Regions from separate parts of the Homo sapiens genome. Here region 2 is linked to region 1. The links come from fine-mapping of genetic effects on gene expression. A gene starts in region 1. The other region holds a variant in brackets. All regions are shown on one strand. Distances are from middle to middle.

Region 1 (5,373 bases):
CTAAATCCAAGTCAGAACATCTCAGAAATGAGCAGGTAGCCCTACATAAAAGTTCCAAGTACAGATAATTCTTTCCACAACATCTTAAAACTTGGATTGTTTTAATAAACTATTGTTACTATTAATTTTTTCACCATAAATTCACTTATAAACCACCAGTATTAACTAAAGCCATCCTTGCCTCCTGTGTAGACCACCCAGAGCCTCCTCCATGGCTGGGTAGATACAAAAATAAAACTGGCCACGTATTGAGTGTTGATGATGTGCTCATTGAATGAGCTCATTTAATCTTCACAGCAGCCCTATGAGGGGACTATTTTATTATCCCTTTTTATAGGTGAGGAAACAGGCATGGGACGGTTCAGTAACATCCATGGTTGCACAAATAGAAAATGGTAATCACTATATTAGACTGCCATTCAGACTCAAACGACATTTGTTGAGTGAGTTAATTTTTTTTCTTTTCTCTTTTTTCTTTTTTTTTTTTTTTTGAGATGGAGCCCTGCTCTGTCACCCAGGCTGGAGTGCAGTGGTACCATCTTGGCTCACTGCAACCTCTGCCCCCTGGGTTCAAGCCATTCTCCTGCCTCAGCCTCCTGAGTAGCTGGGATTACAGATGCGCACCATCACACTCAGCTAATTTTTGGATTTTTAGTAGAGACTGGGTTTCACCATGTTGGCCAGGCTGGTCTCGAACTCCTGATCTCAGGTGATCCGCCCGCCTCGGCCTTCTAAAGTGCTAGGATTACAGGCGTGAGCCACCACACCCTGCCTAATTTTTTTTGGTTTTCCAATAAGCACTGTGGTGTATGTGCTGTTAACTGTCTCCGGTGGACTCCGCAAGCTCGATGTACACAGTGCTGGGCTGGTGCCATGGCTGCTACTCTATGAAAAGTTTTTGACATCACACTGAATGGCTGAGACACTATAAACATTTTACTTTTCAACTCAACCTCGTGTCCTAGCAAAGGTGCTTTATCTAGTTTCTGTAGCTGTTCGAATGAAAGGCACAAATTTGGTGAGCTGCTGAGAATGGAGCAGACCTGGCACGGTGTGATCTAAGAGACTGGGGTGAACAGATGAATCAAGTTGCCTGTGACATTTGTGAGACACGGTGCTAGTATTCACCTTACTGTCTGGAGGGCCCAACCTCAAAGCCACTAAACATATGACATTAGCCAAGTCCTCTGATCTCTCTAGACAGCAGTTTTCTCCTAAGACAAGACGGCTTTTTGGCTTGGCTGAAGTAAGCCAGGTGATTTTAAACAATGCATTAAGCTCTTCTGAAATCTAACAGCCTTGTTCCATGCTCCTCGCTATGGAGAAGAGAGCGCTGAGGGAAAGAGGCCCTGTAGTCTTTTGCCAATGGTGTCGGATGGGCTGCTCAGTCCCAGCACTTGAAAGTTGCAAACCTAGTCAAGAAAGTGCACACAGTACTTCGGATTTTTATGAGATATAATTACATTGACATGACGCCTCATGATTTACCCATGACTCGGGGGGTTTCCAAACTCCAAACACCTCCAGACTGGAGCCCGTCAATCAGCTTCCTCTTGCTTTTCGTGGACTCCCACTGTGGAAACCTGCTGGTGTTTTGCTGCGGTTTCATTTCCCTCTGCGGAGGAGCCAGGGCAACCTTGGCCAGACAGGCACCTAGCTGTGCCCTTCTTTCCAGGGCCTCTTCTCCACTCAGCTGACTCCCCTGGCCTGCCTAACGCTCCTGACTGAGACGGTTTTCCGGCTTCCTCTAACAGGTTGGCGGGAAGTTGATCTGCAAACGCGAGGCAAAGCAGGAGTGTCCTTATTCGGTAGGCCTCTGATGGGCCACCAGAGCCGTCCGAAAGTCCTAGCGGAGTGATTGACAGTGGCCATTTCAAAGCCTGAGTTCACCTTCTTTGCAACCACAATCACGACCCAGAATAAACTGCTTCCTGGAAGCCGGCTAGTTGCACCTGGCCTGAAGTCAGTCTCGGGACTGCCTCTCAGGACCCCAGACAGGGTTTCGGGTTCCCGCCTGGGTCACGTGTACGGAGGCTGCCAGTGCGCACTCAGCCCGGCCCGCCGGTCGCCACAGCAACACCAATCCCGGGTTCAAGCCCGCCTAGGAAGTGCGGTCCCCGCCTGACCGCCCCGGGCTTAAGGGAGCCTGGCTAGGCCGGCAGCCGGATGGTCCCGCAGCTCGGGGCCGGCCATGCTTCGCGGTCCGTGGCGCCAGCTTTGGCTCTTTTTCCTGCTGCTGCTCCCGGGCGCGCCTGAGCCCCGCGGCGCCTCCAGGCCGTGGGAGGGAACCGACGAGCCGGGCTCGGCCTGGGCCTGGCCGGGCTTCCAGCGCCTGCAGGAGCAGCTCAGGGCGGCGGGTGCCCTCTCCAAGCGGTACTGGACGCTCTTCAGCTGCCAGGTGTGGCCCGACGACTGTGACGAGGACGAGGAGGCAGCCACGGGGCCCCTGGGTAAGACCCCGTCCCCACGGTCCGCCGTTCGCTGCGGAGCAGAGTGCGATCCGGGCGCGGCTGTGGTCGCCTCGCTCCTGTCCGGGGCGACATCTGGGCCCGCAGTCCTGCTCTGCTCAGCCGCCGGTACCGGCTGTGGGCGGGGGCAGCCTCCGCGGAGCAGGGAGCCCCATCACCGCCCTTGCCCCACCCGCGTCCCCTGCGCACCCCCCTGGCGCCCGGCTTCCCGTCCCCCGCCTCCCCTGATCCCTGCGCTTTCCAGATTCTCTCGCACCGCCTGTGCCATCTCCCAGCCCACCCTGGCGTTATTCGAAGGTGTTGCTCTTGACAGCTCTAGGGAACGTCCGCTGTGGACATGCCTGGTGACTGCCGTCTCCCTTGCTGCTTTTGGACGCAGGGCTTGAGGACCGACAGTGGGCCGAGTCGGGGCTGGGAGTTAGAATCTGAGTTCTGGGTGTCCCTCTGTCCCTGACAAGTTGTGTGGCAAGGTTGCCGCATCACTGTAGAGCACCGGATGGTCTCCTCTCGGTCTCACAGCTCCTCCTTTTCCAGGCTGGCGCCTTCCTCTGTTGGGCCAGCGGTACCTGGACCTCCTGACCACGTGGTACTGCAGCTTCAAAGACTGCTGCCCTAGAGGGGATTGCAGAATCTCCAACAACTTTACAGGTTGGACCCCGCATGGCTTCAAGGGGCTAGGGATCTGTGGGGAGGGGAGGCAGTCCAGGGGAAATGGTTAGATGCAAGGGACCTTTCGTCATCCTGCCCAGCCTCCCGACAAGCAGGAACTGCCACAGTCTGACTGAAGTTTTGAGGGAGTACCAAATGCTTGAGTCAGGGAAGCCCCTTTTTAGCCTCTAGCTTAATAGCCCAGGCAAACTGAGCTGTTTGTCAGGCCCAGAGCACCTTGTTTCACTCTAAACAGAAACAGCTACCTCTCAGAGGGGGCTGGAACTATCCAGAGAGAACTGATCAGAAATTCTGGGTTGTGATTAAAAGTGTCCCTTTCTTTTCTTTTTTTTTTTTGAGACGGAGGCTTGCTCTGTCACCCACACTGGAGTGCAGTGGTGCGATCTCAGCTCACTGCACCCTCCGCCTCCTGGGTTCAAGCAATTTTCCTGCCTCAGCCTCCCGAGTAGCTGGGATTACAGGTGCCTGCCACCACGTCCGGCTAATTTCTGTATTTTTAGTAGAGGCGGGGGGGGGGGGGGGGGGCGGGTTTCACCATGTTGGCCAGGCCGGTCTCGAACTCCTGACCTTGTGATTTGCCTGCCTTGGCCTCCAAGAGTGCTGTGATTACAGGCGTGAGCCACTGTGCCATGGCAACCAGTATTTTCTAATTAGTTTGGGTTGCTTGATTTGCATATCGCAGTTGATTTGCATTTTCACTCTCACAAGGTGATCTTTGGCCCCATGTTCTGAAACCTGTTCAGACATTTGCAAAAGCTTCCTCTCTTTTCCCCAGGAGCAATTTCTTGCCCAGAGTTCTCCTGATCCCAGGTCCTTCAATCTCCATAAATGAGGCCCACCCCAGATATTTAGGTCACTTAATTGGCCAAAATGCCAATAACACAGTGTGTTTAGGGACACAGTCTGGCTCAGGACAGAAGATAGGACTACATACAGGTCAGGAAGTCTTAATTTGGATCACTGCTGACTTGGATAAGACCCTAGGTAGCAATTAGCAAGTTACTTTCTGTCCTCAACATGCCTTTTGTTCGACAAGGGCCTGGATATCCAAATTGTTCTGGCCAGCGGATTGGAGACCCCTCCTAGTCGTGCCTCTTCCTTGCTGGCAAACTGAAGAGTCCTTCCCAAGTGTCCGTTTCCTCAGCTGTATTTTATTTTATTTTTTTTACTTATTTATTTTGAGACCAAGTCAGTCTCTGTCACCTAGGCTGGAGCAATCTCGTCTCACTGCAAACTCTGCCTCCCAGGTTCAAGCGATTCTCTTCCCTCAGCCTCCCGAGTGGCTGGGATTATAGGTGCCCACCACCATGCCCAGCTAATTTTTGTATTTTTAGTAGAGAGGGGGTTCACCATGTTGGCTAGGCTGGTCTCGAACTCCTGACCTCGTGATCCGCCCGCCTCAGCCTCCCCAAGTGCTGGGATTACAGGCGGGAACCACCTCGCCCAGCCAGTTTCCTCAGCTTTAAATGGGAATAATAATGCCTGCCTTGCAGAATTGTGAAGACCAAATGTAAAACACTTAGCCCAGTTCTGAATACAGAGAAAAAAGCAGCAAATGTTAATTTTCTTCTATGTCACTACTACTTTTGGAGCAATGTGTGATGCCCTCAATGTTTTATCATAGACCTTGACCTCCCAAGGCTCCAGAATACCTGCTCTGGGCTGGCTTAAGGTGTTCAACCAATTGATCCTGGATTTGGAATGCTCACCCACAGCTGGCCGCACACCCTGCCTGTCTGCACTGTGGCTCCTGGTAGCGCCATCTCCAAATCCTACAACCTCACGTCTGACAGGAGGAAGTTAGACCTAGCAGAAGGCTTTGCACACTGGAGCTGCTCTCACCAAGTGTTGGCTGAATTGAATGAGAATGAATAAAATCAGGCTTCTCCATAAAACAGGGAGCCCTGAAACCAAGGGATGGGAGCAGCCTCAGGACATGGGGGACAGGGTTCCTCCCTAGACAGGTCTGTGCCAACTGTTCTGGGTATCTGCAGGATCTTTAGGAAGGGTGATTCCACTCTCCCTGAGTCCCATCTTGATTTCCCAAACTCTTCAAAAAGTAGTCCTTGAGGCTGGGCGCAATGGCTCACGCCTGTAATCCCAGCACTTTGGGAGGCCGAGGTGGGCGGATCTCGAGGTCAGGAGTTCAAGACCAGCCTAGCCAACCTGGTGAAACCCGTCTCTACTAAAAATACAAAAATTAGCTGGGTATGGTGGTGGGCACCTGTAATCCCAG
Region 2 (5,373 bases), 39 kb after region 1:
GAGTGGCCATGTAGAGCAGCACAACTGCAGTCACCTCTTCTCGGTTGCATTCTCGGAGGTAATCCAGCAAATTCCCGTATGGCATGTATTCAGTCACAATGTAAAATGGTGGCTCCAAAGTACACACACCTAAAAGTTGAACAATAGTGCTTGTTTTTATTAGTGTACATTCAAACACTCCAAACCACTTTGGCCAAGAATAATTTGACAATTTTTCAGGTCTAGTTCGGCAATAATCTTTTCCCTTCTTACCACCACGTTCTCTGAAATTAATAAGCAAAAACTAAGAAGCTGGTTTATAAGGGAGTCCTTGCTTTCACTGTATTGTTCTCTGGGAATTCATATGCCTCTGAGTATTTGTCTATTTGAGCAAAAGCAGAGTTACCTGTATTAATTCTATAAGGGGCCAAGAAAACCAACATGTCTAGAGTTTTGCACATGGCCCATGATTCTCCTCCTCAACTGCAGGCTAACAATACTTATTCAAAAGTAATAGCAATTGTGCACAAGCTGAAGACTATGTGAGCCCCACCTGCAATACTGCTTTGCAAAATGATTTTCATCATTTCCATAGTCAAGGATTTCACTGATATATGGCAGATTCCTTATAAAAAACCAACAAGAGGCCGGGTGCAGTGGCTCATGCCTGTAATCCTAGCACTTTGGGAGGCTGAGGCAGGCAGATCGCCTGAGCCCAGCAGTTCAAGACTTGACTGTCCAACATAGCAAAACCCTGTCTCTACTACAAAAATTAGCTGGGCGTGGTGATGCACGTTGAGGCACGAGAATAGCTTGAACCTGGGAGGTGGAGGTTGCAGTGAGCCAGGATCATGCCACTGCACTCCAGCCAGGGTGACAGAGCAAGACTCTGTATTTAAAAAACAAACAAAAAAAAACACCCCCCACACCCCCCCAAAAAAAAGAAAAAAAAAAAAACCTGGCCCTATTTTAAAAAAGGAAAAAGGCTTAGTAAGAGAGTTCTTTGTGACCTGAACAGTGAAAAGCCAATCTAACATAATAAAGCATTTCCTGCTTGTAAAGGTAAACTGAGGGGTGTGGTCACAGTTTTTAATTTGCTTCTTTTCAACAGTCCTTTGTTTAATGTCTCTTTATTTTGCAAAAACATTTCATGAGTTTTTGGTTCAGTACCATTTTGAACACTTCTGAACTTTGAATCTGGGGCAATTAGTACAAACTGAGCAGTTTTATACACCAAAATCAATCCAGGCCACTGTTTCTTGGGCTATTTTTAAACACAGAACCTACTGATTAAAATAACTATTTATTGAAGTGGATTCAAACCTGCAGCTTCCACCATGGTGACTAAAAAGAAAGGTTTGGGGGAGGAAAAAAGGCGGGGCATGGTGGCTCATGCCTGTAATCCCAACATATTGAAAGGCCCAGGCGGAAGTATCACGTCAACAGCAGCCTGGACAACAGAGCGAGACCCTGTCTCTATATTTAAAAAGAAAAAAAAAAAGCATTTGGAGATAACAAGGGGTTAAAGGGCAAGCATTTTTGGAGGAAATCTATGGTTCAGGCAAGGTTCCTCACCTAAAAGTTGTACCAGATTAGGATGCTTGATTTCCTTCATTACTGCAGCTTCTTTCAGGAATTCTTCTACCTCCATGGTATCTTCCTAGAAAAAGGGAAAGGTAAGAAAGAAGAAAACGAGAGGGACAAACCCTCAACTTAAAATCATTTCATTCATCTCACAATCATAAAGCTTCAGCTTTAAAAGTAAAAACTATCTTTTGAATATTTTAGCATATTACAAGATATAATTATTATTTTAATTTAATTTATTTTTTTGAGACACGGTCTCGCTCTGTTACCCAGGTTGGGGTGAAGTGGTGTGATCTCACTGCAACCTCCGCTTCCTGGGCTCAAGCGATTCTCCTGGCTCAGCCTCCCAAGTAGCTGGGATTACAGGCATGCACGACCATGCCTGGCTACTTTTTGTATTTTTAGTAGAGACGGGGTTTTGCAATGTTGGCCAGGATGCTCTCCTGACCTCAGGTGATTCGCCCACCTGAGCTCCCCAAATTGCTGGGATTACAGGTGTGAGCCACCACGCCCAGCTGAAATAATTATTATTTTAAGAAGTCCAACTTAGAAAGAAAAATGCCCTGGAGTAAAAATTAGCAGGAGGAGCAAAATTCAGCAATCGTGTCCTATAATCAACTGAAACACAG[G/A]AGCCCTGTATTGGATAGTTCAGTTCTCTCATAGTTTACTTCTCCAGATATCTCAGGCTTTGAATGACGAGACAGAGCACTTAGCTGCTTACATACTTATCTTCTTGCTTAGATCATAATCTTCTTAGAGAGCAAGGCCTTATATATTGCTTCACACTCAGAATATGCTTAAGAAACAGAACTGACTACTACTTAATAGCTAAAGAATAGCCCTTATAAGTGATACACCAGAGACAGTTACTGAGGCTCTGGGAGAATCAAGTGAGTGAAAACCTTATAATTTGATACTGGGATGTTTAAAGGAGACATATAGTAGTACTACGAAAAAGATTTCTGTTAATATTAAGAAGTGATCTAACTGCAAAGAGACAGGAGGAACAAGAACAAGGGAGAGAAAGGACAGAACAAGAAAGAGGCCCATGACTCTCAGACAAGAATTCTGTCCAGCAGGGGTCGTTCTCAGGAAGCAAAAGAGCTTATTTTGCTTTTATAACTTTTAATTTGCTTCTAACCTCCCACTAAGATCTACATCAACAGCCTCCAGAGACAGACCTTTCCCACATGTGGGTTTCACTGCATTGCAGTGAATAATCTACCTCTGCATTGTCAGCAATGGCACTAGGGTTAATCATCTCAATTTGCTGATGTGCTTGGCACTAGTGGGTGGAAAGTGTTCCAAAGTTAAAGAAGGGCATGCTGATATTTCCAAGTGATTGAGCACAAAAGAAAAAGATGCCTGAAAACTGTAATTCTCAGCAACCCACCTTCAATGTTTTCACAGCAACTGTAAGGCTGTATTTCTTCCAGACGCCAACGTAAACCTCTCCATACTGACCGCCCCCAAGTTTGTGCTTCATGGTAATATCTGTTCGCTCCATTTCCCATTTGTCGTGGATGGGGGACACACCATAGACTGTAGGCTTATTACACTTGGGTGCTGGGTAGTGTAATGTTGTCACCAGCCCATCAGCCACTGTGGAGTGATGGTGTACAAGCTCTGCCAAGGTGCTGAAGCGGCTCTCAGCAGTCACATACACCTGGTAAGAAAAGGAGAAAAGCTAAACAACTTGAAAAGAGATTAAGAATTTTTTTTTTTTTTTTTTTTTTTTTTTTGAGATGGAGTCTTGTTCTGTCACCCAGGCTGGAGTGCACTGGCGCGATCTCGGCTCACTGCAAGCTCCGCCTCCCGGGTTCACGCCATTCTCCTGCCTCAGCCTCTCTGAGTAGGTGGGACTATAGGCGCCCGCCACCATGCCCGGCTAATTTTTTGTATTTTTAGTAGAGATGGGGTTTCACCGTGTTCTTGATCTCCTGACCTCGTGATCTGCCGGCCTCAGCCTCCCAAAGTGCTGGGATTACAAGCATGAGCCACCGCTCCCGGCCTAGGAATTCTTTTTTAAAGCCCATATTTCACTGGCCTGAAGATATAGATAGAAGGCTATCTTTAAAAAAAAAAAAAAAAAAAAAAATATTCTGCAGACAGGGTCTCACTATTGCCCAGGCAGGTCTCAAACGCCAGCCTCAAGCAATCCTCCTGCCTGGGCCTCCCAAGGTGCTGAGATTACAGACTGGGCCAGTATACCCAGCAAGAGTTTATCTTAATTGAGGTAAATAAAAAAGTTAAATGATGATTGCAAGGGTAAACACAGAACTTCAGTTTAATCTTATTTAATCTGCCTTTCCTATTCTTCCTAAATTAGTCTTGGGAAAAACCTTCCAAGATCTCTCTCTGGATAATCAAGCTCATTGGTCTTCAAATATATATATATTTTCAAATATATATATACTCAAATTATGTATTTTTTCAAATATATATTTCTTTTTCTTTTTTTCTTTTTTTTGAGACAGAGTCTCACTCTGTTGCCCAGGCTGGAGTGCAGTGTCATGACCTCAGCTCACTGCAACCTCCGCCTCCTGGGTTCAAGTGATTCTCCTGCCTCAGCCTCCCAAGTACCTGGGATTACAGGCATGCGCCATCACGCCTGGCTAATTTTTTTCTTTGTATTTTTAGTAGAGATGGGGTTTCACCATGTTAGCCAGGCTGGTCAGGAACTCCTAACCTCAAGTGATCTGCCTGCCTCAGTCTCCCAAATTGCTGGGATTACAGGTGTGAACTACCACGCCCGGCCAGTCTTCAAATATTTTTAAGCCACAAGACTATGGACTCAACTACAGAAGATACGTAAAGAAGAGATACCCTGATCAAAGTAGGCAAGCAAGGACTTGGCCTCTTGTAGAAATTTACAAAATATCACCTTAATCTTGTAAAAAACATAACTTGAAAACCACTGATTTAGATTTTTTTGGTAAGAGTATTCAAATATCTCATAATTTTAATTATGACGTGCAGTTGAGTGTCTAGGCCATTAAAGAAAGAGCCACAATTTACCGGTGGCCAGGAGCAGTGGCTCACACCTGCAATCCCAGCACTTTGGGAGGCTGAGGTGGGCAGGTCACTTGAGGTCAAGAGTTGAGACCAGCTTGGCCATCATGGTGAAACCTCCTCTCTACTAAAAATACAAAAATTAGCCAGGCTTGGTGGTGCGTGCCTGCAGTCCCAGCTACTTGGGAGGCTGAGGTGGGAGGATTGCTTGAACCTGGGAGGTGGAGGTTGCAGTGAGCTGAGATCACGCCACTGCATTCTAGAGTGGGTGACAGAGCAAGACTCCATCTAAAAAAAAGAAAAGAGCCACACTGGATTTCACAGAATTGCTTACAAAATAGTTGTTAATTTGCTAAGCAATAAGAAATGTAAAGTAAGAGGGAATTCTCTGGACTTCTCTCCCAAGGGAGCCTTAATTTTTATGTATTTTTGAGAAATAAGGGTCTCACTCGGTTGCCCGGCCTGGAGTGCAGTGACACAATCATGACTCACTGCAGCCTTGACCTCCCAGGTTCAGGTGATCCTCCTGCCTCAGCTTCCCGAGTAGCTAGGACCACAGACATATGCCACCATGCCCAGCTAATTTTTAAAATTTTTTGTAGAGATGAGGTTTCACTATATTCCTCAAGCTGGTCTTGAACTCCTGGGCTCAAGTGATCTACCCTCCTTGGCCTCCCCAAGTGTTGGGATTACAGGCATAGGCCACCATGCCTAGCCTGTTATTTATTTTTTTTAAAGACGCTTTTGGTCGGGCGCAGTGGCTCACGCCTGTAATCCCAGCACTTTGGGAGGCCA

Evidence for each region. PIP is the estimated chance that this variant, and not a neighbour inherited with it, causes the effect.
Region 2: its variant is the best candidate, but not a certain one, in a credible set for the expression of TOR3A in skeletal muscle (GTEx, PIP 0.59).

The regions. Positions count from the first base shown.
Region 1 is chr1:179,079,938-179,085,310 of GRCh38, forward strand. It overlaps TOR3A (torsin family 3 member A), which reads left to right and starts at 2,133. Exons shown (of 6, transcript NM_022371.4): 1 at 2,133-2,450; 2 at 3,003-3,116. The coding sequence starts at 2,192. RefSeq lists silencers at 2,108-2,397, 2,538-2,707, 3,698-3,757.
Region 2 is chr1:179,118,636-179,124,008 of GRCh38, forward strand. It overlaps ABL2 (ABL proto-oncogene 2, non-receptor tyrosine kinase), which reads right to left. Exons shown (of 12, transcript NM_007314.4): 5 at 2,960-3,232; 6 at 1,555-1,639; 7 at 1-129. Among named protein-coding and RNA genes, the nearest start is that of TOR3A, 39 kb to the left of the region's middle. The variant G/A (reference allele first, on the strand shown) is at 2,196.